Regions from separate parts of the Homo sapiens genome. Here region 1 is linked to region 2. The links come from fine-mapping of genetic effects on gene expression. A gene starts in region 2. The other region holds a variant in brackets. All regions are shown on one strand. Distances are from middle to middle. Region 1 holds the start of GNB2 (G protein subunit beta 2). Region 2 holds the start of GIGYF1 (GRB10 interacting GYF protein 1).

Region 1 (16,023 bases), 25 kb before region 2:
AGCTCATAGGTGAAGAAAGCGGGAAAGATATCCCACAAAGAGAACAGCATGGACAGAGGTCTAAGGACATGAAAACTTCTGGAATATGTGGAAATAGGAGTTCAGTCTAGAAGGAGGGTTGGATGTGAGCCGCTGACAGAGGTCAGTGTCAGGAGGAGATGAGATGAAGTAATTAATGACCAGCTGGATGAGGTCGAGGCTGCAGTGAGCTATGATCACACCATTGCAGCCTGGGTGACAGAGTGAGACACTGTCTCTTAAAAATAAAATAAAATAAAATAAAATAAAAATAAAACCAATGGGTTCATGCCTACAACCGTTTTTATTTGTTTATTTTTGTTTCTTTCTTTCCTTTTTTTTTTGAGATGGAGTCTTGCTCTGTCACCCAGGCTGGAGTGCAGTAGCGCCATCTTGGCTCACTGCAGCCTTTACTTCCCGGGTTCAAGCAATTGTCTGCCTCAGCCTCCCGAGTAGCTGGGATTACAGGCGCCCGCCACCACGCCTGGTTAGTTTTTGTATTTTTAGTGGAGATGGGGTTTTACCATCTTGACCAGGCTGGTCTTCAACTCATGACCTCATGATCCAACTGCCTCAGCCTCCCAAAGTGCTGGGATTACAGGTGTGAGCCACCGCGCCCGGCCTTTTTTTTGTTTTTGGTAGAAACAGGGTCTTGCTATGTTTCCCAAGCTGGCTGTTTTTTTTTTTTTCCTTTGAGAAGGAGTCTCGCTCTGTCGCCCAGGCTGGAGTGAAGTGGCGCAATATCAGCTTACTGCAACCTCCGCCTTTTGGATTCAAGCGATTCTCCTGCCTCAGCCTCCTGAGTAGCTGGGATTACAGGCATGCACCACCACGCCCAGCTAATTTTTTTTTTATTTTTAGTAGAGACAGGGTTTCACCATGTTGGCCAGGCTGGTCTTGAACTCCTGACCTCAAGTGATTCACCCACCTTGGCTTCCCAAAGTGCTTGGATTACAGGCGTGAGCCACCACACCCAGCCCTTGTTTTCTTTCTTGAGACAGGATTTCGTTCTGTCACTCAGGCTGGAGTGCAGTGGCGTGATCACAGCTCATTGCAGCCTCAGTCTCCCGGAGTCAAGCAATCCTTTTGCTTCAGTCTCCCGAGCAGCTGGGACCACAGGCACACACCACTACACCCAACTGGTTTTTTTTTTTTCTTGAGACAGAGTCTTGCTCTGAAGCCCAGACTGGAGTGCAATGGCATGATCTTGGCTCACTGCCACCACTGCCTCCCAGGTTCACGTGACTCTTCTGTCTCACTCCCAAGTGGCTGGGACTACAGGCACGCACCACCACGCCTGGCAAATTTTTGGATTTTTAGTAGACACAGGGTTTTGCCATGTTGCCCAGGCGGGTCTCGAACTCCTGACCTCAGGTGATCCGCCTGCCTTGGCCTCCCAAAGTGCTGGGATTATAGGTGTGAGCCACCGTGCCTGGCCTGATTTTTGTATTTTTTGCAGAGATGAGGTTTTGCCATGCTGCCCAGGCTGGTCTCAAACTCCTGACCTCAAGCAATCCACCTGCCTCAGCCTCGAAAGGTGCTGGGATTACAGGCCTGAGCCACTGTACCCAGCCTTCACCCAGCCTTCTGTCAGATAAACCAAGTGCCTTGGCTTCACAGGGAGCCCCGGTCCCAGGATGGATGGCAAGTGCCCAGAAATACACAGTCCAGTAAAGGCTTCAACAGGAATGGAGCCAGCATTGCAGTGGGGCACAAACAACATTTAAAACAATATTTAAACTAAGTCCCAGGAAATGGCCTGGGTTTTTCTGGCAGACAAGGAAGTGGAGCTGGAGGAGGGGTGAAAGGCATTTCTGAGTTGAGGGGACAAGACCTGGCCTTTGTGTCATGCAAAGAAGTTGACTCTTCTCCTGGAAACCCCTGGGAACTACTGCAAGATTTTGAACAGGAGGGTTATTGACCCAACTGGCATTTTAGAAAGATACCTCTGGCAGCCATTTGGTAGATTGATTAGAAAGGGACTAAGTTAGAGGCCAGGAAATGGGCAGGAATCAAGGTAATAGCAATTGGCACACCGTAGAAGGGATGGATTTAAGCAGTATTCAAGAGATAGCATTGGGCTGGGCACAGTGGCTCATGCCTGTAATCCCAACACTTTGGGAGGCTGAGGCAGGAGGATCACTTGAGGCCAGTGTTGGAGACCACTCTAGGCAACATATCGAGACCCCATCTCTATAGAAAAAAAAATTTTTTTTTAATTAGCCTGTCGTGGTGGTGCGTGCTTGTAGTTCTAGCTACTCAGGAGGCTGAGGCAAGAGGATCACTTGAGCCCAGGAGGTTGAGGCTGTCAAAAAAAAAAAAAAAAAGAGAGAGCGATAACATTGACATGATGGATCCACTAGGCATAGACTGCTACTCTTATACCATTTCCCATTGCCCTTCTTTGTTTATTATTGTTATCATCAATTATTTTTATTTTTTGAGACAGGGTCTCACTCTGTCACCCAGGCTGGAATGCAGGGGTGTGATCATAGCTCACTGCAGCCTCAATCCCCTGGGCTCAAGGGACCCTCCCACCTCAGCCTCCTGAGTTGCTGGGACTACAGGCATGAGCCACCACATCTGGTTAATTAATTTATTTATTTTTATCTTTAGCAAACATGAAGTCTCACTATGTTGCCCAGGCTGGTTTCGAATTCCTGAGCTCAAGCAATCTTTCTCCTTCGGCCCCCAAAGTGCTGAGATTACAGGTGTGAGTCACCATGCTCAGCCTATTTTATTATTTTTTATTTTTTATAGAGACAGGGTCTCACTACGTTGCCCAGGCTGGTCTCGAACCCCTGGGCTCAAGTAATCCCCCTGCCTCGGCCTCCTAAATTGCCTTCTTTGTTTATTAATAATGTTTTAGCTGTGTACATGGATAGAGACTACATGTCCCAGCTTTCCTTGCATCTGACTAACTTTTTATTTTAATTAATTAATTGATTGATTGATTAATTAATTAATTAATTTTGAGACGGAGTCTCACTCTGTTGCCCAGGCTGGAGTGCAGTGGTGCAATCTCAGCTCACTGCAAGCTCCACCTCCCGGGTTCACACCATTCTCCTGCCTCAGCCTCCTGAGTAGCTGGGATTACAGGTGTGTGCCACCACACCTGGTTAATTTTTTTTTTTTTATTTTTAGTAGAGACAGGGTTTCACCATGTTGGTCGGGCTGGTGTCGAACTCCTGACCTCGTGATCCGCCCGCCTCGGCCTCCCAAAGTGCTGGGATTACAGGTGTGAGCCACCGTGCCCGGACTTTAATTCATTTTTTATTAGAAATTTAAATAATAGAGATGGGGGTCTTGCTATGTTAACCAGGCTGGTCTTGAACTCCTGACCTCAAGCAAACCTTCTTCTGGCCTCCCAAAGTACTGGGATTACAGGCATGAGCCACTGTGTCCAGCTGCATCTGGACAACTTCTGAGCAGGTTAGTGGTGTCCTTAATCAGGAAAGGACCTGTGCTTCCTGCTTTAACCCCCTTCCCACATTCAGATATGATGGTGATTTCTGCCTAGGCCCCATGGAACAGAGAGATAGAAGCCACATGTTTAAGATGGCAGAGACCAGCTGGGTGCCGTGGCTCATGCCTGTAATCCCAGCACTTTGGGAGCCCGAGGTGGGCAGACTTGAGGTCAGGAGTTCGAGACCAGTCTGGCCAACATGGTGAAATGCCGTCTCTGCTAAAAATACAAAACTTAGCCGGGTGTGGTGGCACACACCTGTAATCCCAGCTACTCAGGGGCTGAGACAGGAGAATCACTTGAACCCAGGAGGCGGAGGTTGCAGTGAGGTGAGATCGCACCACTGCACTCCAGCCTGGATGACAGAGCGAGACTCCCTCTCAAAAAAAACAAAAACAAAAAGAAAACAAAAGGAAAAAAAAGATGGCAGAGATGTCCCCACAGTCCTGGAGTATCTATTTTGAGGTTAAGTCACTGAATTTTGGGGAATTCTTTGTTATAGCCGCTTCGCCTATACCCTAACTGACCATCCTTTGGATATGGGGAGGGAAGGCATGGGAAATATCTGAGTGGGTGCTGGTGCTGTCAACTGGGCCAGGATATTCAGGGAAGGGGTAAGGTTGGGCAGGGTTGGGCTCAGGGGAAGATGATTAACTTAGTTTTGAATATGTTGAATGTGAAATGTCTGTGAACAGTGGTGTGTAGTAAATGGTTTTTTGTTTGTTTGTTTTGAGACAGGGTGTTGCTCTGTCACTCAGGCTGGAGTGCAGTGGTGCGATCATAGCTTACTGCAGCCTCCAACTTCTGGGCTCAAGCAGTCCTCTCACCTCAGCCTCCTGAGTTGCTGGGACTACAGGCATGCCACCAAACCTGGATAATTTTTAATCTTTTTTTTGAAGATGGGGTCTCGCTGTGTTGCCCAGGCTAGTCTCAAACTCCTGGTGGTGAGCCACCATTCCTAACAACCAGCTCTTCAAAAAGGGGGAGCCCTGATCGGAAGCATTTGCCAATGTCCATGACGTAAACAGTCACACCTTGGCTGAGTTCAAGTTCCTACTATCTTATTTTATTTTATTTTATTTTTTTTGAGATGGAGTTTCGCTCTTGTCACTCAGGCTAGAGTGCAATGGCGCTATCTCGGCTTACTGCAACCTCCACCTCTTGGGGTCAAGCGGTTCTCCTGCCTTAGCCTCTTGAGTAGCTGGGATTACAGACACCCGCCACCACGCCCAGCTAATTTTTTTGTATTTTTTAGTAGAGACGGAGTTTCACCATGTTGACCTCAGGTGATCCACCTACCTGGGCCTCCTAAACTGCCGGGATTACAGGCGTGAGCCACCGCGCCCAGCTCTTCAAGTTTCTGCTACCAAGATGCCTTCACTGAATAAGGAGCTGGGTGTACAATGGGCACTCGTGACCTGGCATGAGCGGATGCCAGCATGCCACTGTCCACGGGCATCTAAGTGGGGATATTCAGTCAGCCATTGGATGTACACCAAGTCGGCACACGGGGAAGAGACATCTGGGCTGGAGACAGTAATGGATGAAGTCACCAATGAATAACATGGAGAGTGAGCAGAGGAGGCCAAAGTCAGTATTCTGGGAAAAACAATGTTTGCAGAGTGCCCTGAGGAGGAGGAGATGCTAAGAAGCCAGAAGAGGTAGAGGAAGGAGGCCCTGTGACCCATCAGAGCCACATCCGCCACTTGCTCTCGAGGGTCCTGCCTGCTCAGATAAGTTGGCTACTCATTGGTCATCACCTGGCAACTCTGTCCTTCCTTGCATCTGGCCAACTTCTTTTTCCTCTCTCTTTCCTCCTGCCCTCCTCATTACCATCTAAATTAGCTCCAGTAGCTCTCATCAAAACTCAAATAACGGCCAGGCGCGGCGGCTCATGCCTCTAATCCAAGCACTTTGGGAGGCTGAGGCGACTGGATCACCTGAGGTCCGGAGTTTGAGACCAGCCTGGCCAACATGGTGAAACCCTGTCTCTACTAAAAATATCAAAATGAGTTGGGCGTGGTGGCACATGCCTGTAATCCCAGCTACTTGGGAGGCTGAGGCAGGAGAATTGCTTGAACCTGGGAAGTGAAAGTTGCAGTGAACCGAGATCGCAGCACCACTGCACTCCAGCCTGAGTGACAGAGCAAGACTCTGTTTCAAAAGGAAAAAAAAAAAAATATATATATATATATATGTAATTTTTCTGTAGAGACAGGGTTTCTACAATTTTTTTTGTAGAGATGAGATCTTGCTGTGTTGTGCAAGCTGGCCTCAAGCGATCCTCTTGCCTCAGCCTCCCAAAATGCTAGGATGACAGGCACGAGCCACCACGCCCAGCCTAAAAAATATACATATCTTTTTTTTTTTTTTTAGATGGAGTTTCGCTCTTGTCGCCCAGGCTGGAGTGCAGTGGTGCAATCTCGACTCCCTGTAATCTGAGTTCCAGCAATTCTCCCGCCTCCCTCCTGAGTAGCTGGGATTACAGGCACACGCCACCATGCCTGGCTAATTTTTTGTATTTTTAGTAGAGATGAGGTTTCACCATGTTGCCCAGGCTGGTCTCGAACTCCTGACCTCAAGCGATCCTCCTGCCTCAGCCTCCCAAAAACGTTGGGATGACAGGCATGAGCCACCGCGCCCGGCCTAAAAAACCCCGACTATCTTGATTCCACTTCCTCTTCTCACTGCTGCACCAGCTTTGTACATGGTCCCCGGCCAAGCTGAGATACCCAAAGTCTGGTCCACGTTGTTTTTCTCCACTGCATCATTTCTCACTCACCCATTGCAAATGCCGTAGGCAGAGCTACAGTGGCTTCTACCCAATCCACTGCACACTTCTCAGGGCAGGCTTGCTTCATGTCTCTGCAGCCTTCAGCACAGTTTCCCATTCCTTTTTTGGAACACTCTTTTCTTTTGGGTTCCAGAAGTCCGCATCCTCCTGATTTTCTTCTTAGTTCGCCGGCTTCTCCTTTGGCAACTTGTTCTCCACCTGACCTCTAAATGTCGGAGTTCCTCAGAGCTTGGTCTTAGGCCATCTTGTCTTTTCCCTGCACCTCTTTATGACGTCATCTGCTAGAATGTGCCACTCACTCTTGGGGCTCTATTCCAACCCAGATTTCTCTGCTGAATTCCAGGACTGTGTCTACAGCCACCTATTAAACATTTCTCCTGGATTTCTCAAAGAACTAAAAATAGAACTACAGTTTGACCCAGCAATCTCATTACTGGGTATTTACCCAAAAGAAAAAAAATCCTTCTACCAGAAAGAAATATGCACTCGTATGTTCCTTGCAGCACTATTCACAAGAGCAAAGACATGAACTCAGCTTAGGTGCCCATCAATGGTGGACTGGATAAAGAAAATGGTACATGTATGTTATGGAATACTATGCAGCCATAAAAAGAAACAAAATGAAGAAACAAAGAAACATGTTTTTTGCAGCAACATGGATGCAGCTGGAGTCCATTCTCTTAAGTGAATTTAGAGCAGGAACAGAAAACCAAATACCATATGTTCTCACTTGTAAACAGGAGCTAAACATTGGGTACTCATGGACATAAAGACGGCATCAATAGACACTGGGGACCACTAGGGGGAAGAAGGAAGAAGATGGGGCAAGGGTTGAAAACTATTAATACCTAATGGGGCCAGGCATGGTGGCTCACGCCTGTAATCCCAGCACTTTGGGAGGCCAAGGCAGGTAGATCACTTGAGGCCAGGAGTTCAAGACCAGCCTGGCTATCATGGCGAAACCCCATCTCTACTTAAAATACAAAAATTAGCCAGGTGTGGTGGTGCACACCTGTAATCCTAGCTACTTGGGAGGCTGAGGCAGACGAACCACTTGAACCCAGGAGGCGGAGGTTGCAGTGAGCTGAGATCGTGCCATTGCACTCCAGCCTGGGCAACAGAGCAAGACCCTGTCTCAAAGAAAAAAAGAAAAAGAAAAACTACCTATTGGGTACCGTGCTCATTACATGGGTGATGGGATCAATCGTATTCCAAACCTCAGTGTCACACAATTTACCCATATAACAAACCTGCACACGTACCCCGTGAATCTAAAATAAAAGTTAAAAAAAACAAAAAAAGAGGCCGGGCACAGTGGCTCACGCCTGTAATCCCAGCACTTTGGGAGGCTGAGGCAGGTGGATCACGAGGTAAGGAGATCGAGACCATCCTTGCTAACACGGTGAAACCCCGTCTCTACTAAAAATACAAAAAATTAGCCGGGCCTGGTGGCACGTATCTGTAGTCGCAGCTACTCAGGAGGCTGAGGCAGGAAAATCACTTGAACCCAGGAGGCAGAGGTTGCAGTGGGCCGAGATTGCGCCACTGCACTACAGCCTGGGCGACAGAGCGAGATCCGGCTGAGTGCGGTGGCTCACACCGGTAATCCCAGCACTTTGGGAGGCTGAGGCTGGCGGATCGCTTGAGGCCAGGAGTTCGAGACCAGCCTGGGCAACATGACAAAACCCTGTCTCTACAAAAAAAAATACAAAAAATTAGCCAGGCATGGTGGTGTGCACCAGTAGTTCCATCTACTGGGGAGGCTGAGGTGAGAGGATCATCTCAGCCCAGGAGGTCGAGGCTGCAGCAAGCTGTGATTGCGCCACTGCACTCCAGTCTTGGTGACAGAGTGAGACCCTGTCTCAAAAAAAACAAAACCAAAAACACCAAAAAAAATTTTCTCCATAGGCACTTCAAACCTAAAACTTCCCAATCTTAAACTCTTGATCTTCCTCCCAGAATATGTTCCATCTCAAATGTTCTGCTCGAAGTAAACAATACCTCCAGGCCAAGCACTGTTATTTTTTCATTTTTGTTTGTTTGTTTTGTTTTGTTTTGTTTTGAGACAGGGCCTGGCTCTGTCACCCAGGCTGGAGTGCGGTGGCAGAAATTCAGCTCACCACAACCTTTGCCTCAGGAGTTCAAGTCATCTTCCCACCTCAGCCTTCCGAGTAGCTGGGACTACAGGCGCACGCCACCATGTATTTCTTTCTTTCTCTCTCTTTTTTTTTTAACGACGTAGTCTTGCTATGTTGCCCAGGCTGGTCTTGAACTCCTGGACTCAAGTGATCCGCCCACCTCTGCCTCCCAAAATGCTGGGATTACAGGTGTGAGCCACCACGCCTGACCCTAATCCATATTTCAATGCCCATCTGCCTCCTCTATAGATTGCAAGCTCCATGAGGAGGGTGCACCTGTCATTCAAGGTTGCATCCTCATTGCCTAGGGCAGTGCCTGATACATCATCCGGTTCAGTAAATATCAACGGAATGAGTTAAAACAGGAAAGCTTATTAGCACAGAAACCAAAGCAGCACACATGCCCTCTTGAGATTGACAAAATTGTGCTGTAGTCCTGCGCTGCTTGTTGTTAAGTGACTTTAGGGAAGTCATCGTGGCCATCTACAGATTGAGGAAATCAACGTAATTATCTCTGAGGTCCCTCCCAAATTCTCATGTGTAGTTGACATCTGTTATCTATTGCTTATATGTCACTGAATTGGCAGGTATGCATAAATAGAATTTGCATCTAACTACGAATACGATTGTTTATATTTTCTTTAAAAAAATATTGGGCTTTTGTTTCTCATATTGAGAGCTCTGTTATGCCATTTTCGAATTTCTCCCAGATGTCCCCCCCGGCCCACCTTCAAACTCTGCTTCCTTAGACAGATTTGGCAATAGCTTTGTAAGTGATATGGACATAATTGCCTAAAATAATGAAAACCTACAGGATTCTTTTTTCATTTTCCCTTTGGCATGTTTACAATTCCCTGCCCCACCAGGCAGATCATTCTGTGTGTGTGAGTGTGTGTACCCATTACAAAGACAACTACTATGTTCATAACATATTCGATTTGGAAAAAACAATTGTAGGCTGGGCACGGTGGCTGACATCTGTAATCCCAGCACTTTGGGAGGCCGAGGCGGGCAGATCACGAGGTCAGGAGTTCAAGACCAACCTGGCCAACATGAAACCCCATCTCTGCTAAAAATGCAAAAATTAGCCAGGCCTGGTGGCATGCTCCTATAATCCCAGCTACTCGGGAGGCTGAGACAGGAGAATCGCTTGAACCCAAGAGGCAGAGGTTGCAGTAAGCCGAGATTGTGCCATTGCACTCCAGCTCTGGGTGACAGAGCAAGACTCCATTTCAGAAAAAAAAAAAAAAGAAAAAAGAAAAAACAATTGTTTTTGAAAAGTGATTTGTAATGTCTTTCACAGAGACTAAATGAAGAGTATGTTTTGATACTTTTTAAAATATAATTTCATCTTTTTAGATTCTGACTCATGTGCACATGAATGTACCCATGTACATGGGTATATCTTGTGATGCTGAAGTTTGGGGTACAATTGATCCCGTCACCTGGGGTACAGTACCCAATAGGTAGTTTTTCAACCCTTCCCCCCTCTAGTAATCCCCCGTGTCTATTGTTCCCATCTTTATGTTCATGAGTACCCAGTGTTTAGCTCCTACTTATAAGTGAGAACATGCAGTGTTTGGTTTTCTGTTCCTGCAGAAATTTATCCACTTAGGATAAAAGCCTCTAGCTGCATCCATGTTACTGCAAAGGACACGATTTCTTCTTCTTTTCTTTTCTTTTGTTTCTTCTTTCTTTCTTTCCCTTCCTTCCTTCTCTCTTTTCTTTCTCTTTCTCTCTCTCTCTCTTTTCTGCATCCATGTTGCTGCAAAGGACATGATTTCTTCTTTTTTCTCTCTTCCTTTCTCTTTCCTTTCTTTTTTTCTTTCCTTCCCTTCCTTCCCTCCTTTTCTTTCTTTTACTTTTTCTTCTTTTGTCTTTCTTTCTTCTTCTTGAGTCAAAGTCTTGCTCTGTTGCCCAGGCCGGAGTGCAGTGAGTGGTGTGATTTTGGCTCACTGCAACCTCCGCCTCCCGGGTTCAAGCAATTCTCCTGCCTCAGCCTCCTGAGTAGCTGGGATTACAGGTGTGTGCCACCACGCCCAGCTAATGTTTGTATTTTTAGCAGAGACGGGGTTTCACCATATTGGCCAGGCTTGTCTCAAACTCCTGACCTCAAGTGATCCACCCGCCTCGGCCTCTCACAGTGCTAGGATTACAGGCGTGAGCCCCATCTCGTTCTTTCTTATGGCTGCGTGTTTTGATACTTTCAAATTACAAGGACTCAGTGAAGGCTATTCGTTGCCTTGAACTTCCCAAAGCATTTCCACAATCGATGGGGTTCTCAGTAAGAATCCGGGACTTGGAGGGCAGATGCTGTCAACATCCCCATTTAACAGATGTGGAAACTGAGGCCTAGACCTACGTTCTTGTCCCTTTACAGGCAAGGTCCCTGGAGGAAGGGGTTCATCTAGAGGCTCATACAGATAAACTGGAATGTACAGTAAAGTTTTGGCTGCCTGGGTTCATATCTAAACTCTGCAGCCTCAGGTCTCTTTCCACTATTAGAAAATGGGGAGAAGGCTGGGCGCGGTGGCTCACGCCTGTAATCCCAGCACTTTGGGAGGCCGAGACGGGCACATCACCTGAGGTCAGGAGTTTGAGACCAGCCTGGCCGACATGGTGAAACCTCGTCTCTACTAAAAATACAAAAAAAAATTAGCTGGGCATGGTGGCGGGCGCCTGTAATCCCACCTACTCCAGAGGCTGAGGCAGGAGAATCGCCTGAACCCAGGAGGCGGAGGTTGCAGTGAGCCGAGATCATGCCACTGCACTTCAGCCTGGGCGACAGAGTGAGACCCTGTCTCCAAAAAAAAAAAAAAGAAAAGAAAAGAAAATGGGGAGAATGTTAGCACTTAATTTCCCAGTATTGTGAGACTTAACATATGTCAGCCTGGGCAGCATAGCAAGACCCCACCTCTACCAAAAATTTAAAAATTAGCTGGGCATGGTGGCTGGGGCACGCCTGTGGTCCCAGGTACTAGGGAGGCTGAGGCAGGAAGATCACTTGAGCCGAGGAGATTGAGGTGGCAGTGACCTACAATCGCGTCACTGTACTCCAATTAAAAAATAAGTGTCGGGCCAGGCGCGGTGGCTCACGCCTGTAATCCCAGCACTTTGGGAGGCCGAGACAGGCAGATCACGAGGTCAGGAGATGGAGACCATCCTGGCTAACACCGTGAAACCCCGTCTCTACTAAAAATACAAAAAATTAGCCGGGTGTGGTGGCACACGCCTGTAGTCCCAGCTACTCAGGAGGCTGAGGCAGGAGAATCGCTTGCACCCGGGCGGCGGAGGTTGCAGTGAGTTGAGATAGCACTCCAGCCTGGGCGACAGAGAGAGACTCCGTCTCAAAAAAAAAAAGTGTGGCTCTCAATAAATGAGTTGTTATTTCAGTGGCAAGCCCTGAAAGGGGGTCTACAAAGGCCCAGTGGGCGAGGCTGAGGAAATGCCTGGACACGACCCTTCTCATGGCATTCCCGGGGCGCCCGCATCAGCCCCTACCCACTCCCGCTCGGGGACTTTCTCGGAATCGC[GCTT/G]CTTCTTCCAGCAGCCTCGAGGCCGGCCCCGTCCAGGTCTCTTTAGCTCCGCCCCCTGGTGAGGGGCGTGGCCTCCTCAGGGCCGGGGCGTGGCCCAACCGGGAACTGGGGCGTCGAACTCCCCTTCCCAGTCTGGAGCCACCCATTCCAGGCGGGGCGGGAGGCTGATCACGTGACCAGCGAGCGGTCTCACCCTCCTCATATGCCAGTACCACCTCCTCCAGTCCCAGAGGGGGGATGTCTTACTCCTTTCCGTGAAGCAAACCCTTTGAGTACGGTTTGCGTCCACAAAGCGTAGGGTGAGAACCTTGGGAGCGACTGGGCCCGTCTTTGCTCCCTCGGTGGGGTTTTGTCTCCTGGCTTCCCCCAAGTGCGAGGCAGTTGGTCTCGCCCAGCCGGGTCCTGGGCGCGGCGGCGGCAGCCGCGTCACTGGCGGGCGGGATCCCTCCGCTCTGGGGAGGCAGCGCTGGCGGCGGGGCTGGGGCCACTGAGGAAATCCATCCGCGCCGCCGCCGCCGCCGCCGCCGCCGCCGCCGCCGCCTCCGCCGCGGAGGAAGACAGCGCCGCCCGCGCACCGCCAGCGACCTCCGCCGCAGAGTCCCACCGCCACAGGTACCTTCGCTGGCAAAAGGAGTCCTCTCGCCCCCCAGCCCCAATTTCCCCCAGGGGAACCTCTCTTCCTTCGGTCTCCCGGGGCTGGCCTCCTGGGAGCGGACGTAACTCCCCAGACCTCCGCTCCCTTCCCCTCTTGCCCGGTCGCTCCCAAACCCGGAAGGGGAACTGGGGAACCCTCGCCCCCCACCGTGCGTGCGCTTCCCCGCACCATCAGCGAAGTTTTTGCCCGACCCCAGACCCCAGCCCAGCCCCGACTGCCTCTTGCTCCCTCGGAAGTTGGGGGGCTAAATTCCGGGCTTCCTCTAGGCCCCGCCCCGCCCCCTTTCCCCACCGCCACCCTCCCGCCTGCCCCCGGGGAGCACCCCTCGTGTCCTCCACTGTCGCACCCCTGCCGGCCCTCGCCTTGCACAACTCCAAAATCGGGGAGAAGCAGGCAAGGCCGCGCGCCACCCTTCCTTTCGTCTCCACCCTACCCACGATTTGGGTGCTGCCCGTGGTTTCTGGCCCCACTCGCCGAAACTGGAGCCCTCGGCGCCCTATTCCCTTTACAGATCCTCACCCCAAGCCCAGCTCCCAGGCGCCCGCCCCCCGCCCAGCTTTCTTTTAGGCAAAATGGAGGTCGTAGGGGCTGGAGGGCCAGGCCCACTGCGCTTCGCAGCGCCGCACCAGCCCGCGCCTTCCAGCTGCCAGATCCAGGGACCCTCCCGTCACTCTCCTGAGCCCCGCCAGACCTGCGGAGGCGGTTGCACCCTCATTTCTCTATGGAGCGCCGGCTGCTATATCCCTAGAGTCTGGGGGCTGCTGAGGGCCCTGGGGGGTGATGGGGACCGAGGGCTGAGAACGTCGCCCCCGCCCCCAGTTTCTTCCTCCAGCCGTGCTTCCTTCTGCCCTGGGCCTCCGGCGGTGCCGCCAGGCCTGGGCTGCTAGTAGGTGGAAGAGGCTTTGTGCGGGCCTGGGGGTTGGGTAGAGTAAGGAGTTCTGCCCGCACCCCCCATCCCCCGATTTTGAGGGTCACCCCTTGGCACTGGCGTAGAAAGCTGAACTTACAAGGAGGGGAAATGTCAGTGGGGAAGAGGAACGCCCTGCGCCTGGGGGAAGTGGGAGCTGGGTGGGGGACGCCTGGGCCGGCCAAGTGCAGTGTGTACGGCCGGATCGCACAGGTGTCCCGCGGGCGGGGAAGGACTCAGGCTCCCGGAGCGGAGCCAGCCGGGCCCCTGGGGCCCGGGCGCCGAGCCTGCGGGCTGGGCCCCCCGGGTGTCCAGGGCGCCGCGGCCAGGCCGCCTGGGGCCGCCCGCCCGCGCCTGGGAGAGAGCACCTCCGCGCCTCGGGGCCGGGGACCTCGTTGCGGAGCCGTAATTACTCGAGAGCGGCTCCCACGGGCTTTCTGCGGGCGCGGCGGGGCGGGCGGTCCCTGCGCTGGAGGGAGCAGCGGCTCGGGGCTGCCTTCCCCGCCGCTGTCACCCCCACCCGCGGCGGACGGCTAATGGGGCGCAGCCGGACCGGGGATTATCCGGGGTGAGCCGTCCAGAACCTATTAGCGCCCAATCGGCTTTTCCCAAATCCTGTAAACAGCCACCCGGGCCGGTTCTGGGGAGGGCGGGAGGCTGGGTCGGGCGGGGGCGATGGGGCCGGGGGTGGGGTCACCCACCCTACAGGTCTCTGCCGTGGATGCGGTTGCCTTGGCAACGGGGCTAGGGTGGGGGCATTTCACCAATGAGGTGCTCTCGGTCCGGGTGACGGTTGCCTAGGCAACCCCACGAACAGCCCAGCTTTCCCCTCTGGTCTCTCCCCCCACCCGCCACCATCGAAGCTGGGGGTGTGTGTGGAGGGTGTGCGCCTTGTGGGGTGAATTTCAAGAGGCACCGCCCCTTTTAAAATTAGGTGCTTGGAGGGCGGTGCCTGTGCGGGCTGGGGCAGAAGCCAGGTCTGTTTTCGAAGGGACACCCCCGCCCCCCCCGCCCCAGTTCCTGCCGCGGGTGTCCTGCCCGGGCTGTGTCCGAGGGAGGGGTTTCCCCTGCGCTTCCTCTTGCACTTCCCGCTCCGTTTCCGGGGGGCGGGAGGAAGATTGGGGAAGTCGGCTCTTACTCGGCGACGTCTCTGGTGCCGGAGACCCTGGTTGTGCCCGGGGACGGCGGCCGCGCCGCCCCTTCCCCCTCCCCTTGCTTACCCCTTCCGGGCCGCGCTGCAACCCCGCCTTTCTCCCCACTTCCCCGGCGGCCTCGGGCCTGACGTCAGCCCTGCATCCCCCAGGCCTCGGGCCAGCGGCCAGGAGCTGCCTCCCCCAGCCCCCGTCCCGCGGCCCCCAGCCGCCCCCAACCCTGCCCCACGGGCCCGGCGCCATGAGTGAGCTGGAGCAACTGAGACAGGAGGCCGAGCAGCTCCGGAACCAGATCCGGGTGAGGGCCTGGTGCGGGGCGGGCGATTCATGTGTACACCGCCCGGTGCCCTGGACCGGGTTGGGTGAGGGTGTTGGTGGGGGAAGGGGGAGGGAGGGCCCCTTAATGGCTCAGAATCTGACCCTGTCCACTCCTGTCTTCTGTTCTCTTCTCTCCCTTTCCTCCCCAACCTGTCTTCTCTCGCGTCTCTCTGGCTCTGCCATCCCTTACAGGATGCCCGAAAAGCATGTGGGGACTCAACACTGACCCAGGTGAGGGCACTTGGTGGCCAGAGCGTAACTAGGGGTTGAAGGGGCAAGGATCAGAGGCCGCTGCCCTCTGCAGTCCTGCTGCCTGGGCCTCCCCGAGCGCATTCTGTCTCTACCTCCAGATCACAGCTGGGCTGGACCCAGTGGGGAGAATCCAGATGAGGACCCGGAGGACCCTCCGTGGGCACCTGGCAAAGATCTATGCCATGCACTGGGGGACCGACTCAAGGTGTGTGTGTGTGCGCGGGCTGGCGCTGTGGGCCGACTTTCTAGCAGGCCGTGGGAGCAGCCTCAGATCTGGCGGAGTAAGCAGGCCACCAAAATACCCAGCGTACGTCTGGAAAAACGGTGACTCCCAGACATGTCCGCCAGACCTGGACAGGCAGGACCATGCTGGTGAGAACTTGTGGGCTGCAGCTGGAGACTGTCTCTCAGGTGGCTCACGCCTGTAATCCCAGCACGTGGGGAGGCCAGGGCAGGATCACTTGAGCTCAGGAGTTTGAGACCAGCCTGGGCAACATAGTGAGACCCTGGCTCTACTAAAAATTGAAAAATGAGCTGGGTGTGGTGGTGCTCACCTTGTAGTCCCAGCTATGCGGGGGAGGCTGAGGTGGGAGGATCACTTGAGCCTAGGAGTTCCAGGCTGCAGTGAGCTGTGATGGTGCCACTGCACTCCAGCCTGCACAACAGAGAGAGACCCTACCTTCTCCCACCCAAAGGGAAGGGGGTGTGTCTTGTTTTCACGCCACCCTTCTGCTCTCCCTACACCGTTCCCCACCAGGCTGCTGGTCAGCGCCTCCCAGGATGGGAAG
Region 2 (16,023 bases):
CTCCCCGTGGCTACAGGAGCCCACCCTCTCATTACAGTTCCTGCTCCCCACTGCCCCCGCCAATGCTACCAGGCCCCAATCTCACCAGGGCTGGCGGAGCGCCAGCGGTCGCCGTCTCGCCGGGGCCCTGCTCCGAGCCTCCAGCTGCCCTCCTCCTCCTCCTCCTGTTCCTCCCGTAGGGAGCGCCAGTTCTCGCTGTCTGAGCGGGCGTGCTCCTTCCTTGGGCCAGCCCCTCCCTCCTCAAAGCCACATCGTGCTGGGAGACGGGAAGACAGGGGCAGTTATTAGAAAGGCAGCGTGGTGCCTGGACCCTCAAGAAACGTTGGGGGGGCCAGCTCCAGGCCCTCCTGCCCCCAACACCTCCGAAATAAGCACCCCCAGACTGGGCCACCCATCTTGGTCCTCCCTGCCGCCCCGGCCGCCGCCCTCAGCAGCCTCGTACCTCCATCCCGCCTTGCTGACTTCTCAAACCGCCTCTCGCCTCTGCAGCAGGGGAAACGTGTGGGTCAGAAACAGTACAGCCTCCCCTGCCACCCTGTGCAACCGCCCCATGCCTTGTCCACTGTGCCCTGAGGCAGTGGAGGGAGGAAGGGGACAAACGAAACCAGGGGTCAGGAGCACCGGGATCTCGGACAGGGCTTATCTGGTGGGCCTCTGTTACCCTCTAGCGACAGGGCCCAGGCCTCCCCTCCCTGGCCTGCCCGGCTCTGCGCCATGCCCCCTCCCCGCCCCACCTGTCATCCCAGCTCTGGCTGCGCTGGATTTCCCGGGGGCTTCGTCCAAAGGCCCCATCGCCTTCTTCGATGCTTCTTTGGTAAAAGCAGCTGTCACCACGGCCGCGGCCTAGAGAAGAGGCCAGACGCACAATGAAACCTGCTGCACGTTCTCGAAGTCAGGGGCCCAGATCTGCCCGTCCCCAGGACACGCCATCACCCCTCTACCTCGGCTCCGCGTGCTGCCCCTGCCTCGGGAGGTGCCAGCCAGGGGGGGGCCAGCCCCTTTCCCCATCAGCCTCAGCACAGCCACGCTGTTCACTGACAGGGAGAAGTTTCTCTGAGGAGGGAGCCAGGGGCGGGAGTGAGGACCCAGGCACCCAACCACCTCCACCCCCACCCCACAGCACCCTCCCCGCCTGTCTCCTCAGCGCTGGCCCCTCTCCTCCTAACCCAACCCATGGCCTCCCCTCCCAGGCTCCCGCAGCCTCAGCTCCTGGCCCGGTCCCACCTGTTCCTCCTCAGTCAGCGGCTCCAGAGCCAGGGGCTGCAGTGGCTCGTCCTGCAGCACCGCGGCGAACTCCTTGTCCTGCAGCTCTTCCGGGACCTGGCAGTGGGTTGGGACAGCCAAGACACCACATGCTGCCAGATCCCCTCCACAGGCAGAGGCCACCACCGCCAACCCCCCTCGCCCACGCACCCACCTTGTTCTCCTTGACGTAGAGAGCCAGCATTTCCTCTCGCCCATAACGGTAGTCAGCCAGCTTGTATTTGGGCATGGCAGGGGACGGGGGTGGGGAGGCCACGCTGCCGCCCCCGGACAGGGCCCTGAGCCTGGACACAACACAGAGAGAAGAAGACAGAGGTCAGGGCAGCCTGACTGTGCTTTCTCGAATCTCCACGGCAGCCGAGGCACAAGTGACTCACCACTCAGGCCCAAAGTTGAGTGTCTCTGCTGCCATCGTGGGGCTGGGCGTGTTTGAGAGGCCGGGGGTGGGGAGGAGGGGACCTGGCGTTCACTGTCCAAACACCTGTGGGGGAACAGGGGCCATGAAGAACAGCACACGAAGGAGAACTTTAAAGCGCAGGGAGGACACCATGGGGGACATCCTAGTGGGCACAACAATGGGCCCCGGACTAGCTGGTGGGTCACCTGGGGTCTAAAAGGACTCACCTGAGCCAGCCACGTGGCCACTCACACCATGAGTTACCCAGAGATGAGTCCAGACGGTGAAAGACCTGGGGGAGGCGAGGAGATGGGAAGCTCGAGTCCTTTCGGCCTCAGCAGGGCAACCACCCTTGGCCCGGGGCTCACCTGGCAGCCTGGCCCGGGAAGAAGGAGGGCAGGGGCTGGTGCTGGAGTGAACGAGGGTACCCAAGCCACTGGGAATTGGTCTGACCTCAGTAGAGCCTGGGAGGGACCTTCACATCTGGGAAAGACCCTTAAGGAGAGCAGGGGGGAGGAGGGAGGGTTCAGGACATGGCTCTGCCGGCAGCCCTGCCCTGCCCCGCATGACAGGAGAGGTCCATTCGCCGGATGGTGTCTCTGGGCATCAGCACCCTCGCCACCCTCTCTGGGAGGCTGAGACAGGAGGTGTAGTGAAGAACTCGGGGAGGGAGGCAGCCGAGGCCAGGATGGACGTTCAGGGCAAAGATAAAACAAAAACAAGCAAGCAAACAAAAACCCACTAGAGCCACAAATAGCTTACAGAGAAAAGGTCAGTTACGGAGAAAAGGATTAGAAATAAATCTAGGAGCAAAATTCTTTCCCTCATGAAAAAAATCAGTTGGCTGCTCAGAAGCTCAAATCCAGGGGCTTGGTCTGGGGAGAAACCCAGTGAAAAGGAGCAGGAGGTGACTCTAGGGCCACAGACGGGTACACGACAAGGACTCCAGGCAGGCAAGCCTGAGCCAAGGCACCTCGGGCTGGTTTCCCCCACAGGAATCACACCCAGACCACCGCCCCCAATCAATAATGGAGGCTTAAACAACCAAGCCACCAAGGGAACGAGGATCTCAGGATACCAGCTGGGAAGCAGCCTCTGGCACCATCAGGTGGAAATAAGGTCAGGGCAATGGAGGCTGATGGGGGCGCGGCGGCAGCCTGTTCCTCTAAGGGAGGATGGAGGGGACTTTCAGGAGGAGGCGCATCCCTGGGGCCCCAGGCAGAGGACTCAAGCGGGTGGGCGGGGTCCAGGTGCTGCGGTGTTGTCACTGGCTGGGAGGGAGGCTGGCCCGGCTTGGTGCTGCAGCTCCCATCAACTCCAGGACGCCACAGTCTGGGAAAGAAGAGGAAGCGGGTTCAACCAGGGTGCTGAGGAGGAAAGGCCATCAGCCCCAGCTGAGCCAGCAGCCCATGACAAGCCGAGGCCTGCTCAGAGTCCAGGCACTCCAGGGGGAAACACCGGGCTCAGAGGCAACCCAAGGCCAGGCTGGCCTCCCCTGGGACCTCTCCTTCCTCTGCCTCGGCTGGATGCTCCAGTGGTGGTGTGTTCCATGACATGAAAAGCCACCAGCCTGTCACTGACTGCAGGTGGCCACCTAGAGCAATCTGGGGACTGGATGAGCCTTGAGGACATCACGCTAAGAGAAACACACCAGCCAAAAAAGGAGAGCTACCCCTTACTTCTCTTTCATGAGGTCTCTAGAGCAGTCACTCATTGAGGGAGGAAGGTAGAAGGGCAGCCACCAGGGGCTGAGGGGACAGGGAGCTGTTGCTGAAGGGTCCAGAGCCTCAACTGAGGAGGGGATCCTGGGGCCGCTGGTGGTCATGGCCGCACACCAATGTGAGTGTACTTAGTAACACAGAATGGCACAATTAGAGACAGTTAAAGTCTCCAAATTTTGTTGTATATTTTACCACAATAATCATTTTTTTAAAAAAGCTTTAGGGAACAAAAGGTATCTGGAGATAACCACCGCATACCTAAGTTTTCCCCACTCCAAGAAAAACACCCCACATTCCTTCAAATCAGCCTCAGGAGAGGCCATTTTGGGCCTCCTCCAGTTCATTCCTTCTAGAAGGCCAGAAGCTCATCCTGGAGGCATGAGGGTGGGAGAGAGTAGAACAGAAAAGGGACCACCTGGCCAGCACAATGGCTTATGCCTATAATCCCAGCACTGTGGGAGGCTTGAAGAGAGGAGTCCGAGACCAGCCTGAGTAACAGAACAAGACCACGACTCTACAGAAACAATTCTAAACATTTTTTAAAAAAGAAAAAGTGGCCAGGCGTGGTGGTTCATGCCTGTAATCCCAGCACTTTGGGAGGCCAAGGCAGCCAGATCACCTGAGGTCAGGAGTTTGAGACCAGCCTGGCCAACGTGGCAAAACCCTGTCTCTACTAAAAATACAAAAATTAGCCAGTCCTGGTGGTAGGTGCCTCTAATCCCAGCTACTCGGGAGGCTGAGGCAGGAGAATCGCTTGAACCCAGGAGGCGGAGGTTGCAGTGAGCTGAGATTGCGCCCCTGCACTCCAGCCTGGGCAACAGAGCAAGACTCTGTCTCAAAAAAAAAAAAAAAAAAAAATTTAAAGCGATGGCCTCACACTGCCCCCTGCCAGGCGCAGCAAGGGCAGCTCTCCTAGGTGCCTCCGGCTCAAGTCACCCATCCTGGCTGTGTCTTGGCTGCAAGGGGCACACAAAGGGGGAATGGTTCATGCAGACTGAGGACAGCGACACCAAGACAGGGGAGAGAGCAGGCCCAGAGCAGGAAAAAGCCCATGCCACCCGCCTTCTTGGGAAGAAACCAGGAGAGTGAGGTTAACTCTCTAGGCACCCCCACAGCAGGGTCTGGTGCCGGAAGCTGATGGTGCCTGGCCCCTTCCTTGGACTAAAGGAACTAGTGGCACACCTGCAGGCCACCATGGGGCTCCCACCCTCCAACAGGTTCTGGACTGGGGGCACCTCTGCTCCTCAGGGGGCTCTTGGCCAAGTCTAGAGACATTCTGGGTTGTCACCACTGGGCAGGGGGTGCACAGGGCAGCCCCACAGCCAAGAGCTATGTGACTCCAGATACCAAGTGCGCCAGTGCTGAGACACCCTCCTCTGCGCCACGAGCATGGGCACAGCCCTTGGGGGTCTACTGGGCCAAGGGGAAGGCAAGGGAAGGCAGGTGTGTGCACGCTGGGTCATTCTCCTCTCTGAACAGCAGGGACATCATTCCCTAATTACACTGTCCCACGAGGGAAATCTGAAATCCTGCCAGGAGAAAATCTTTGAGAAAAGAATAGATTTTTTTTTTTTAAGAAAAACTGCCTAAGTTTGTCTATTGCAAGCTCTCAGGGCCAGGTATCTGATCCCTGTCCAATGAAGGTAAGAGCAGGAGGTGGCGGGGGCTGGGGTACTGCCACCTGCCCGTCTCAGCTTACCCGGCTGAGCTTTCTCAGCTCAGGGTCTCCTTCTCACAGGCCCCTTCCAGCCTGTCCCCCGCCCTGGCCCTGCCCTCAAGCCTCGGCCTACTTCGGCTCCTCGCCCCTTCCCCACCCCTTCTCTTTCTCGGGCCTGTCTACCCTCACTCCCCCAGCATCTGAATCAATGCTTTTGAAAGACTGCCCCCTGCCGGAGACAAGGGGCGAGGACACGCTGGGCCCGGGTGCTCCAGTAGGCGCCAGGGCGCGCGGGAAAGGGAGCCTGCTCTCTGGGGCTCAGAACTCAAGAGAGAAAGAAAAGACAGAGAACAGGCGGTCCCAGTGCACATTCAGCTAAGAACATTATCTCCTCACTCCATCACCCCTAAAATTAGCTCCAACACAGAGCACTGTGCCTTGGCACAGAACAGAGCCACTTAAACAGAAGCACAGTCCCCAATTCCTCAACACTGGAACAACCGCCCAGCCCCAGGCCTGCTGGAGGGGACCTGGCCCTTTCTCAGGATGGAGATTCTCCAAGCGTGGTAGGGTGAGGACGCTGAGGCTTAAAAAAGAGATGCAAACCCGCATTCTTCGCGGCTGGTCGGTTATCCCAGCTCTCTCCTCTCTGAGCCATCCCAGCAAATCACACCACCGCTTGGCAATTGTCTACAAGTTAACAGTTTTCAAAGGATTTTCACTCTTTACCTCCTGTGATCCCTTTTGCCCACTTGCCCAGCCTTGGGCTCCAGCCAGGGAAAAGAAGGAGGAAGCTGCTCCGACAGCGTGCCCCGACATCCTTGACACTATGCAAGACTGGAGGTGCGCACGGTAGCAGTAACCATCCCAAACTCGCAAGCATTATTCTGTGAGTTTGAAGCCATTTTACATTTGTTAGACTTTCAACATCCTTCATCTAGCCTCCTCCTCTCATCTTCTCTCCTCTAAAGTGGGCTATTTTTCTTTAATTCCCAAATTCCAATAGCAGATGTAAAAGTTAGGGCTAACGCATCAGATCACGAACACAAGACTGATGTGTCCAACAGCAGAAAAAGCTAGTCCAGAAGTTTAAGCACATGGTCCACTTGACTAACCACCACGTGGGACCCTCAGGGCCCCTGGTCCCCAGGCAATGGCAGGGACACCAAGGCCAGGTCTACCCTCAAATCCTTCCCAATGGCACGACAGACCGCTGGGGGACCAAGACCTACAATCTAAGAAAATCAGATTGGAGCTGGCTAGCCTGGTGGAGGGTGGCTAGCCTAGGTCTGCAAAGGGCACAGGAAAGATGGGAAGGAGAAAGAACCCCAAATCCCCCATGTCGGCAGCAAAGGAGAGACCCTTACTGGTACCACCGATGGTGTTTCCATGCCAAAGGCGAGGGGTTGGCGGGGTTCTAAATTGAAACTTCTATATAGACTCGAAGAGGCAGTGCACAAGAGGGTGGGAAAGCTGACGATCTTCCAGAACGACACTTTGAGAGGCAGGAGGGAAGTAAGGCTTGGGTGGCTGGAAAAAAAAAATCCAATCCAGCTAACAAGTCTTTATGTAGCATCTCCTAGTTCCTAGCACTAGGATGCAACAGACCTGGAGTCTGACCGGGAATGCGAGTAATGACTGTATAACAGAGAAGAGAGACGAGGGGCTTTTAAAAAGTTACTCGGAAATTTTTTTGTTTTTTTTTTTTTTTAAGGCAAAGTGTGAGAGCTGTGGCCAGGGAGCTGCTGCACGGAGGGGCATGAGCTGAGAAGGGCCTGGCCTGGGACGGGGAGGACAAGCAGTCTCTGCTAAGGAAGGTATTTCCCGCGGCCGAGCAACTGGGAAGAAGGAGACCCCAATGACCCAGCACTAAGATCGCCGGAGCGAAAGGAAACAGAGGTGAGGAGGACCCAGGCGAGGTGCCTGGGTGGAGGGCAAGGCTTCCATGTTGGCCAAAGTCGTGGAACGCTTGGACCTGGGGAACCGCAAGGCCCAGCTCGTTCCGAGGGGAACCCAAAGGCGCGCTGGGGAGAACTCCGGGAAGCGCGGGGCCCGGCCACCCTAGGACGCTAGGGTCGGGGGCCCCCAGGCGGCCCAGGGCAGGGCTTGGCAGGGGCCCGGGGGCGACCGTTAGGAGCGCGGGGGTGGAAGGCAGCGCGCCGGCCCGGGAGGACGGCGTGCCCTTCAGGGAGGGGCGCCAGGTGCGAGGGGGGCGAGCGGTCGCCCCCTAAGCCGGGCGCCGGCCTCCCGGGGCCTCCCCGAGGCTGGCCGGCTCTGGGGGAGGGTCCCGGCGGCGGGGATGGGCCGGAGCGGGCGGGAGAGCGGGAGGACGCACCGGGCTGCGGCGGCCTCGGGGAGGAGACGGGGGAGGGTCCTCGCTGGCGGCCCGCGCGCTGGCTCCGGCGCTTCTCTAGCTCGCGGGCTCGGCGCGGCCGCCGCGGCGTCGGGGGCGGGCCTGCCCCGGGGCTGGGCTGCGGGCCGGGGGCCGCGGGGCCACTGGGCGCTTACCGCGGGCGGCGCGAGGGTCCGGTCCCGGGGCGTGGGCGGCGCGCGGCGGGCGGGGGCCGGGGACGGCGACGGCGGCTAGCAGCGGGGGAGGGGGCGCTGGCGCTCCCGCGGCGGCCGCTCCTCTGTGTTTGTGTTTGTAGCAAGATGGCTGCCCGCCTCGCACCACGTGACGCGGACGCGGGGCCGCGGGGCCGCCCCTTCCACCGCCGCCGCCGCCGCCGCCGCCGCCGCCGCCGCCGCCGCCGCCGCCGCCGCCGCCGCCGCCGCCGCCGCCTCCCTCCGCGGCTCCGGCCCGCGCCACCTCTCCTCGTGCGCTGCTCGCGTGCCGCGCGCGCCACTGCCCGGACGCCCGTCGCCCCCGACAGCCCCCCCCCTCCCCGCCCCGACACGTGACCTGGGCGCCCGGCTGGTCACGTGACGGGGGCCCCCAGCTGCGGGCGGGATCGGCCCCAGAGCGGCCTCCTCTCCCCCACCTCCCCCGGCCCCGCGACGCGCGACCTCTGGGACCGAGGCCGCGGCCTCCCTGGCGGTCCGGTTTCCTCCAGGAAGCCCGCCTGGATGACAGGAGACAATAAAATCCAGAACCCTTCATCAGGCGTCCTGGGATGTGTGAAATAAGTGGCTCAGGCAAATAAGTTGACTCTCAGGAGCCTCTTTATTTTTTTAATTATTTATTTAATTATTGAGACAGAGTGTTGCTCTGTCCCCCAGGTTGCAGTCCAGTGGCGCGATCTCGGCTCACTGCAGCCTCCGCCTCCCGGATTCAAGTGATTCTCATGCCTTGGCCTCCCGAGTAGCTGAGATTACAAGCACACACCACCACGTTTGGCTTATTTTTGTTGGCCAGGCTGGTCTAGAACTCCTGACCACTCAAGTGATCCGCCTGTCTCGCCCTCCCAAAGTGCTGGGATTACAGGCGTGAGCCACCGCGCCCGGCCCCTATTTATTTATTTTTTTGAAGCAGGGTCTCACTCTGTTGCCCCAGCTGCAGTGTACTAGCCCGATCTCGGCTTACGGCAGCCTCCAACTCCCGTGTCTCAAGCGATCCTCCCATCTCAGCCTCCTGAATTGTTGGGACTATAGGTGTGCACCATCACACCCAGATAACTTTTTTATTCTCTGTAAAGACTGGGCGGGTGGCGTGTCTCATAACATTGCCCAGGCTGGTCTTGAACTCCTGGTCTCAAGGGATCCTCCTGCCACAGCCTCTTGAGTAGCTGGGACTACAGCTGTGTGCCACCACACCCAACTAATTTTTTTAATTTATTGTATTTGTTGTTTGTTTGTTTTCCAAGACAGAGTCTTGCTCTGTCGCCCAGGCTGGAGTGCAGTGGCGCGATCACGGTTAACTGCATCCTGCGCCTCCTGGGCTCAAGCAATCCTCCTGCCTCAAGCACCCTGAGTAGCTAGGACTACCAGGGCACACCACCACGCCCAGCTTTTTTTTTTTTTTTTTTTTTTTTTTTGTAGAGACAGGGTTTCCCCCATGTTGCCCAGGCTGGTCTTGAACTCCTGGACCCAAATGATCCTCCTTCCAAAGTGCCGGGAACTCCTGGACCCAAATGGATCCTCCTTCCAAGGTGCCGGGATGACAGGCATGAGCCGCCACGCCTGGCCTCTCAAAAGCCTCCGTTTCTCTTACAGAAGGATGTTAACACTGCTCTGCACCCAACCCCCGACCCCCAACTCCACACTCTTCCTTGAGTGCTGTAAGAATTAAAATAAGTGAATGTGAAAGGCTTTGACAAGAGAGAAACTGCTATGCAAATGTGAGGTGACTGAAACCCCCTTTGTTTAAAAAAAGGACTTTTCAAGAATGACTCGCTGAACTTTTTCAAGGCTCAAAAGTTCCGCGTATGCTTTCACCTTTTTCTTTGGAAGTTACTCCAGAATGTATACCTTACTTCCCAGAAGCCTAAAAGAGCTGTCGCCCAACACAATGTAATCCTCAAAACAAGGAAAAGGTAAGTTCATGACTTGGAATTTGAGTGCCTGGTGTCTTGCCATGATAGAGTGTTGACTTCAGGAACTATTATACCTGGAACAACTTTTGTTTCCCCCACCAAGTACCACTAGGCTTCTCTGCACTTGGAGTTTTCCTGTCTGTTTTCCTTTTTTAACTATTTTATTTATTTAAGAGACAGGGTCTTGCTCTGCTGCCCAGCCTGGAGTGCAGTGGCACAATCAGCTCACTGCAGCATCGACCTCCTAGGCTTAAGTGATCCTCCCTCCTCAGCCTCCCGAGTAGCTGGGATTGCAGGGAGTGGCACACCACCATACCCGGGTATTATTTATTATTTATTTTTTTTTTGAGAAAGAGTCTCACCCTGTTGCCCAGGCTGGAGTGCAGTGGCGTGATCTCAGCTCACTGCAACCTCCGACCCCAGGTTCAAGCAGTTCTCGTGCCTCAGCCTCCCAAGTAGCTGGGATTACAGGTGTGTGCTACCATGCCTGGCTAATTTTTGTATTTTTAGTAGAGACAGGGTTTCACCATGTTGGCCAGGCTGGTCTCGAACTCCTGAACTCAGGTGATCTACCTGCCTCAGCCTCCAAAAGTGCTGGGATTACAGGCACGAGCTACTGTGCCTGGCCCAGCTATTATTTTTTACTTTTAAATTTTTGTACAGACTGAAGTATCACTATGTTGCCTGGGCTGTTCTCGAACTCCTGGGCTCAAGCAGTCCTTCCATATTGGCCTCCCAAAGTGTTGGGATTACAGGCATGAGCCACTGTGCCTGTCCTGCTGTCTGTTTTTATATTTTATTTAATATTTTAATTTTTTTCGAGACGGAGTTTCGCTCTGTCGCCCAGGCTGGAGTACAGTGGCGTGATCTCAGCTCACTGCAACCTCCACCTCCTGGGTTCAAGTGATCCTCCCACCTTAGTCTCCTGAGTAGCTGAGACTACAGACAGGCGCCACCATGCCCAGCTAATTTTTGTATTTTTGGTAGAGATGGAGTTTCACCGTTTTGGCCAGGCTGGTCTCAAATTCCTGGCCTCAAGTGATCCTCCCGCCTTGGCCTCCCAAAGTGTTGGGATTACAGGCGTGAGCCACCGTGCCCTGCCAGCTAGCTTCCTTTCTCAAAGAGGGAGTTTATAGGCTTTAATTTCTGCTGACTTCAGCATCAGTGTTCACACTTTACAGTTGGTGGGGATTACTTGTCCAAAGTCACACATTGGTGTCCAGGAGATCCAGGGAGACCCCTCTGGTCTTCCACCGTGATTGTATTAGTCAGTTCTCATGCTGCTAATAAACCTTGTCCTTCCTTGAGCCCAGAAGCCTGGGCAACAAAATGAGTTCTTGACTCAAAAAGAGAGAAAAGTGAAAAAATATAATAAAAAACAAAAAAGAACTGTGAGTCTCCCATGAAGAATTTAAAAATTACAAAGAAATCACTTGGACCTAATTGGCCGGGCATGGTGGCTCACACCTGTAATCCCAGCACTTTGGGAGGCTGAGGCAGGTGGATCACCTGAGGTTGGGAGTTCAAGACCAGCCTGACCAACATGGAGAAACCCCGTCTCTACTAAAAATACAAAATTAGCCAGGCGTGGTGGCACGTACCTGTAATCTCAGCTACTAGGGAGGCTGAGGCAGGAGAATCGCTTGAACCTAGGAGGCGGAGGTTGCGGTGAGCAGAGATCACGCCATTGGACTCCAGCCTGGGCAACAAGAGCGAAACTCCATCTCAAAATAAAGAAATCATTTGGAGCTAATGTGTTTTTGTTTGTTCAGGTGCTGCTCTGTAAAATGTCTTGGTCTGTGTTCTAAATTTGCAAACTTTTTAACTAAACAAAGAGATTTGTTTGGAAGGTTAATGGAGATGAAAGAGTGGTCTCACGCAGACCAAACAGCCAGCCTCTGCCTTTCTTTTCTTTTTCTTTTCTTTTTTTTTTTTTTTTTTTTGAGACAGAGTCTTGCTGTGTTGCTCAGGCTGGAGTGCAGTGGTGCAACCTCCGCTCCTCCGGGTTCAAGCGTCTTGTATTTTTAGTAGAGATGGGTTTTGCCATGTTGGTCAGGCTGATCTCAAACTCCTGACCTCAGGTGATCTGCCTGCCTCAGCCTTCCAAAGTGCTGAGATTACAGGCGTGAACCACCGTTCCTGGCCCTTTTTCTTTCTTTCTTTTCTTTGAAACGGAGTCTCCCTCTGATGCCCAGGCTGTAGTGCAGTGGCACGATCTTGGCTCACTGCAAGCTCCGCCTCCCGGGTTCATGCCATTCTTCTGCCTCAGCCTCCCGAGTAGCTGGGACTACAGGCACCCACCACCACGCCTGGCCAATTTTTTGTATTTCTAGTAGAGACGGGGTTTCACCGTGTTAGCCAGGATGGTCTCGATCCCCTGACCTCGTGATCCACCTGCCTTGGCCTCTTAAAGTGCTGGAATTACAGGCATGAGCCACCACGCCCGCCCCGCCCCCACTTTTTTTTTTTTAATGGCAGATTCCTCTTCAGTGTTTTCCTTTGATGAAATGTAAGGAGAGGGCTGGATGCGGTGGCTCACGCCTGTAATCCCAGCACTTTGGGAGACCGAGGCAGGTGGATCATGAGCTCAGGAGTTCAAGACCAGCCTGGCCAACATGGTGAAACCCCCGTCTCTACTAAAAATACAAAAATTAGCCTGCGTGGTGGCAGGCGCCTGTAATCCCAGCTACTCGGGAGGCTGAGGCAGGAGAATCACTTGAACCTTGGAGGTGGAGGTTGCAGTGAGCTGAGATTGGGCCACTGCACTCCAGCCTGAGAGACAGGGCGAGACCCCGTCTCAAAAAAAAAAGAAATGCATGCAAGGAGATAAGGACTGTCTTGTTGTCAGATCAGTTTATTGTCAAATCGGTTTATTACAGAGCTTGTCTTCATCCACCTAAATTGCGAGCCTTGATATTTATGTGGATATCAGAGTTTGCAAAACATATTTTAGGTACCATGGAAAGACACATGACCTGAGTAATGGAGTGATAGCTCATAAACTGTGCTTATTGTTAATTATCAGACATAATGGGCGTTAAAATTAATTTACTGCATTCAGAATTACTTTTGGCCCTGCGCTAAGTTCTTTGCTCAACCAAACGTAACTGCGTTGTAAGTCACCAATGACTTCCACATTGTGAAATCTACTGGTCCATTATCTTACATGACCTGTTACCAGCCAGTGACATAGACGGTCACTCCCTCCAGAAATACCATCTTCACCTGGCTTTCTGGATGCTATATTCTGTTGGTTTTCCTCCCACCTCACTAGCTGCTATTTCTCAGATTTTACTGGTTCCTCCTCTTCTCCCCATCCTCCCAGGGCTCAGACCTCCGTATTGGAACAGGATATGGGTCGGGCACAGTGGCTCACATCTGTAATCCCAGCACTTTGGGAAAGGCTGAGGCGGGAGGATCGCTTGAGCCCAGGAGTTCAAGAGCAGCCTGCACAACATGACAAAACCCCATCTCTACAAAAAATACAAAAATTATCCGGGCGTGGCAGTGCACACATGTAGTCCCAGCTACTCAGGAGGCTGAGGTGGGAGGATTGCTTAAGCCAGGGAGGCGGAGGTTGCAGTAAGTGGAGATCAAGCCACTGCACTCCAGCCTGGGTGGCAGAGCCAGACCCTGTCTCAAAAAAAAGGGAACAGGATATAGGACCTACTGCTAAACATTCCTGTCTCTGCCTAATCATTACTTCCTCTTGGAAAACCTTGGATCCCTCAAGATGATATTGGCTGTCTCTCCTTGGGGATCCACCCAATCCTATTCATGTCCCCTCAGCACAGGTCATGCGATCATGCTCACCTTGTCTTGCACACTACAATATGAGCAGTTCAGCACAGTATTATGTAATATAACTGGTATGTTCGCAGCCTAACAGGTCACCTTGATCCATCCCTTATAGCTGTGTAATATTCCATGGGATGGATGTGCCATAGATTGTTTACCATGCACTGATCAAAAGTTATCCGGAGGTCGGTGGCTCATACCTGCAATCCCAGCGCTTTGGGAGGGTGAGGCAGGAGGATTGCTTAAGTACAGGAGGTCAAGACCAGCCTGGGCAACATAGGGAGACCCCCATCTCTACATAATAAATTAATATGAAAAGAAAGCCATCTGGGTTGCTTCCCGTTGGGCTATTACAAATAAAAATGCTATGGACGGGCTGGGCACGGTGGCTCACGCCTGTAATTCTAGCACTTTGGGAGGCTGAGGCAGGTGGATCACAGGTCAGAAGTTCAAGACCAGCCTGGCCAAGATAGTGAAACCCCGTCTCTACTAAAAATACAAAAAAATGTAGCTGAGCGTGGTGGCATGCATGTGTAATCCCAGCTACTCGGGAGGCTGAGGCAGGAGAATTGCTTAAATCTGGGAGGCAGCAGTTGCAGTGAGCTGAGATTGCACCAGTGCACTCCAGCCTGAGTGACAGATTAAGACTCCATCTCAAAAAAAAAAAAAGAAAAAAAAAATGCTATGGATGTTCATGTACAGATTTTTAAATGCCAAGAAATGTTCTTGCTGGGTCATTTGGTAAGTGTACGTTTAATTTTAGAAGGAACTGCCAAACTGTTTTCTAGGATGGCTGTACGATTTTCCACTTCCACAAGCAGTGTATGTATGAGAGATCCAGTTTCCCTGCATTCTCATCCACACTTGGTATTGTTCGTATTTTGTATTTCAGCCATTTCAATACGTGTTATTGGTAGCTCGTCATGGTTTTCATGTGTATTTCCTTAATGGCTAGTGATATTGAACATCTTATGATGTGCTTATTTACCATTCTTATACTCTCTTTCACTGAAATGTCCGTTTAAGATTTGCCCATTTTCTTTTTCTTTTCTTTTTTTTTTTTTTTTGAGACAGTCTTGCTCTGTCGCCCAGGCTGGAGTACAATAGTGTGATCCTGGCTCACTGCAACCTCTGCCTTCCAAGTTTAAGCGATTTTCAAGTCTCAGCTTCCCGAGTAGATGGGATTAACAGGCGCCCGCCACCACGCCCAGCTAATTTTTGTATTTTTAGTGGAGACGGGGTTTCACCGTGTTGGCCAGGCTGGTCTCAAACTCCCAACTTCAGGTGATCCACCCACCTCAGCTTCCCAAAGTGCTGGGATTACAGGCAAGAGCCACCGCTTGCTTGCTTGCTTGCTTCCTTCCTTCCCTCCCTCCTTCCTTCCTTTTTTCTGTTTTTTCTTTCTCTCTTTCTCTCCTCTCTTCCTTCCTTCCTTCCCTTTTTCTTCCTTTCCTTCCTCTCTCTTTCTTTCTCAGACCCTCACTTTGTCACCCAGGCTGGAGTGCAGTGGTATGATCACAGTTCATTGCAGTGCTGTCCTCCTGGGCTCAAGCAATCCTCCTACCCCAGCCTCCTGAGTAGCTAGGACTGTAGGCACAGACCACCAGGCCTGGCTAATTTTTAAATTTTTTGTAGAGACAGGATCTCACCATGTTGCCCAGGCTGGATTTGCCCATTTTCTAATTGGGTTGTTCGGTTTCTACCTCTCGAGCTTAGAGAGTGCTTTATATATGCTGGAAACAAGTCCTTTGTTGGATATATGATTTGCAAATATTTTCTTCCAGTCTGTGGCTACTCTTTTCATCTTATTAATGTGATCTTTCACACAGCAAATGTTTAAACATTTTGATGAAGTCCAATTTATCATTTTTTTTTTTTGAGACGGAGTTTTACTCTTGGTGCCCAAGCTGGAGTGCAATGGCGCAATCTCAGCTCACTGCAACCTCCGCCTCCCGGATTCAAGCGATTCTCCTGCCTCAGCCTCCTGAGTAGCTGGGATAACAGGCGCATGCCACCACGCCCGGCTAATTTTTTGTATTTTTAGTAGAGACGGGGTTTCACCATGTTGGCCAGGCTGGTCTTGAACTCCTAACCTCAGGTGATCCACCCACCTCAGCTTCCCAAAGTGCTGGGATTACAGGCATAAGCCACCGTGCCCAGCCCAATTGTTTTTCTTTTATGGATTGTGCTTTTGGAGTCATGTCTAAGAACTCTTCGCCTTTAGCTGGGCATGGTGGCATGTGCCTGTAATCCCAGCTACTCAGGAGGCTAAGGCAGGAGAATCTCTTAAACCCGGGAGGCAGAGGTTGAAGTGAGCCGAGATCGCGCCACTGCACTCCAGCTTGGGCGACAGAGTGAGACTCCATCTCAAAAAAACAAACAAACAAAAAAACAAAACTCTTCACCTGACCCTACACCATGAAGTTTTTTCCTAAATCTACTATCCATTTTGTATTAACTTTTTGCATAGGGCTGAGGCTCATTTCTTTGCCTATTTGTCCAATTGTTTCACCACCACTTGAAAGGATCATCCTTTCCCCATTGAAACGCTTTTATACCTTTGTCAAAAACAAGTTGTTTGGCAGTGGCTCACGCCTGTAATCTCAGCACTTTGAGGGAGCTGAGGCAGGAGGATTGCTTGAGTCTAGGAGTTCGAGATCAGCCTGGTCAACGTAGTAAGACCTCGTCTCTACAAAAAATAAAACAAAATTAGCC

What was found.
Region 1: its variant is fine-mapped to the expression of GIGYF1 in whole blood (TOPMed, PIP 0.93).

What each region holds. Positions count from the first base shown.
Region 1 is chr7:100,661,360-100,677,382 of GRCh38, forward strand. It overlaps GNB2 (G protein subunit beta 2), which reads left to right and starts at 12,381. Exons shown (of 10, transcript NM_005273.4): 1 at 12,381-12,564; 2 at 14,818-14,963; 3 at 15,176-15,214; 4 at 15,334-15,440; 5 at 15,993-16,023. The coding sequence starts at 14,907. It overlaps LOC105375429 (a long non-coding RNA gene), which reads left to right. Exons shown (of 3, transcript NR_133946.1): 3 at 4,743-5,067. RefSeq lists silencers at 11,911-12,040, 12,051-12,130, 12,381-12,560, 14,151-14,390, 14,401-14,980 and enhancers at 12,991-13,200, 13,401-13,480. The variant GCTT/G (reference allele first, on the strand shown) is at 11,950.
Region 2 is chr7:100,686,564-100,702,586 of GRCh38, forward strand. It overlaps GIGYF1 (GRB10 interacting GYF protein 1), which reads right to left and starts at 7,687. Exons shown (of 27, transcript NM_001375765.1): 1 at 7,547-7,687; 2 at 2,029-2,992; 3 at 1,888-1,952; 4 at 1,641-1,744; 5 at 1,418-1,547; 6 at 1,225-1,320; 7 at 942-1,053; 8 at 735-843; 9 at 443-483; 10 at 86-256. The coding sequence starts at 1,675. RefSeq lists silencers at 5,184-5,353, 7,116-7,235, 7,406-7,505, 7,946-8,105, a cis regulatory region at 6,761-8,254 and an enhancer at 8,793-9,596.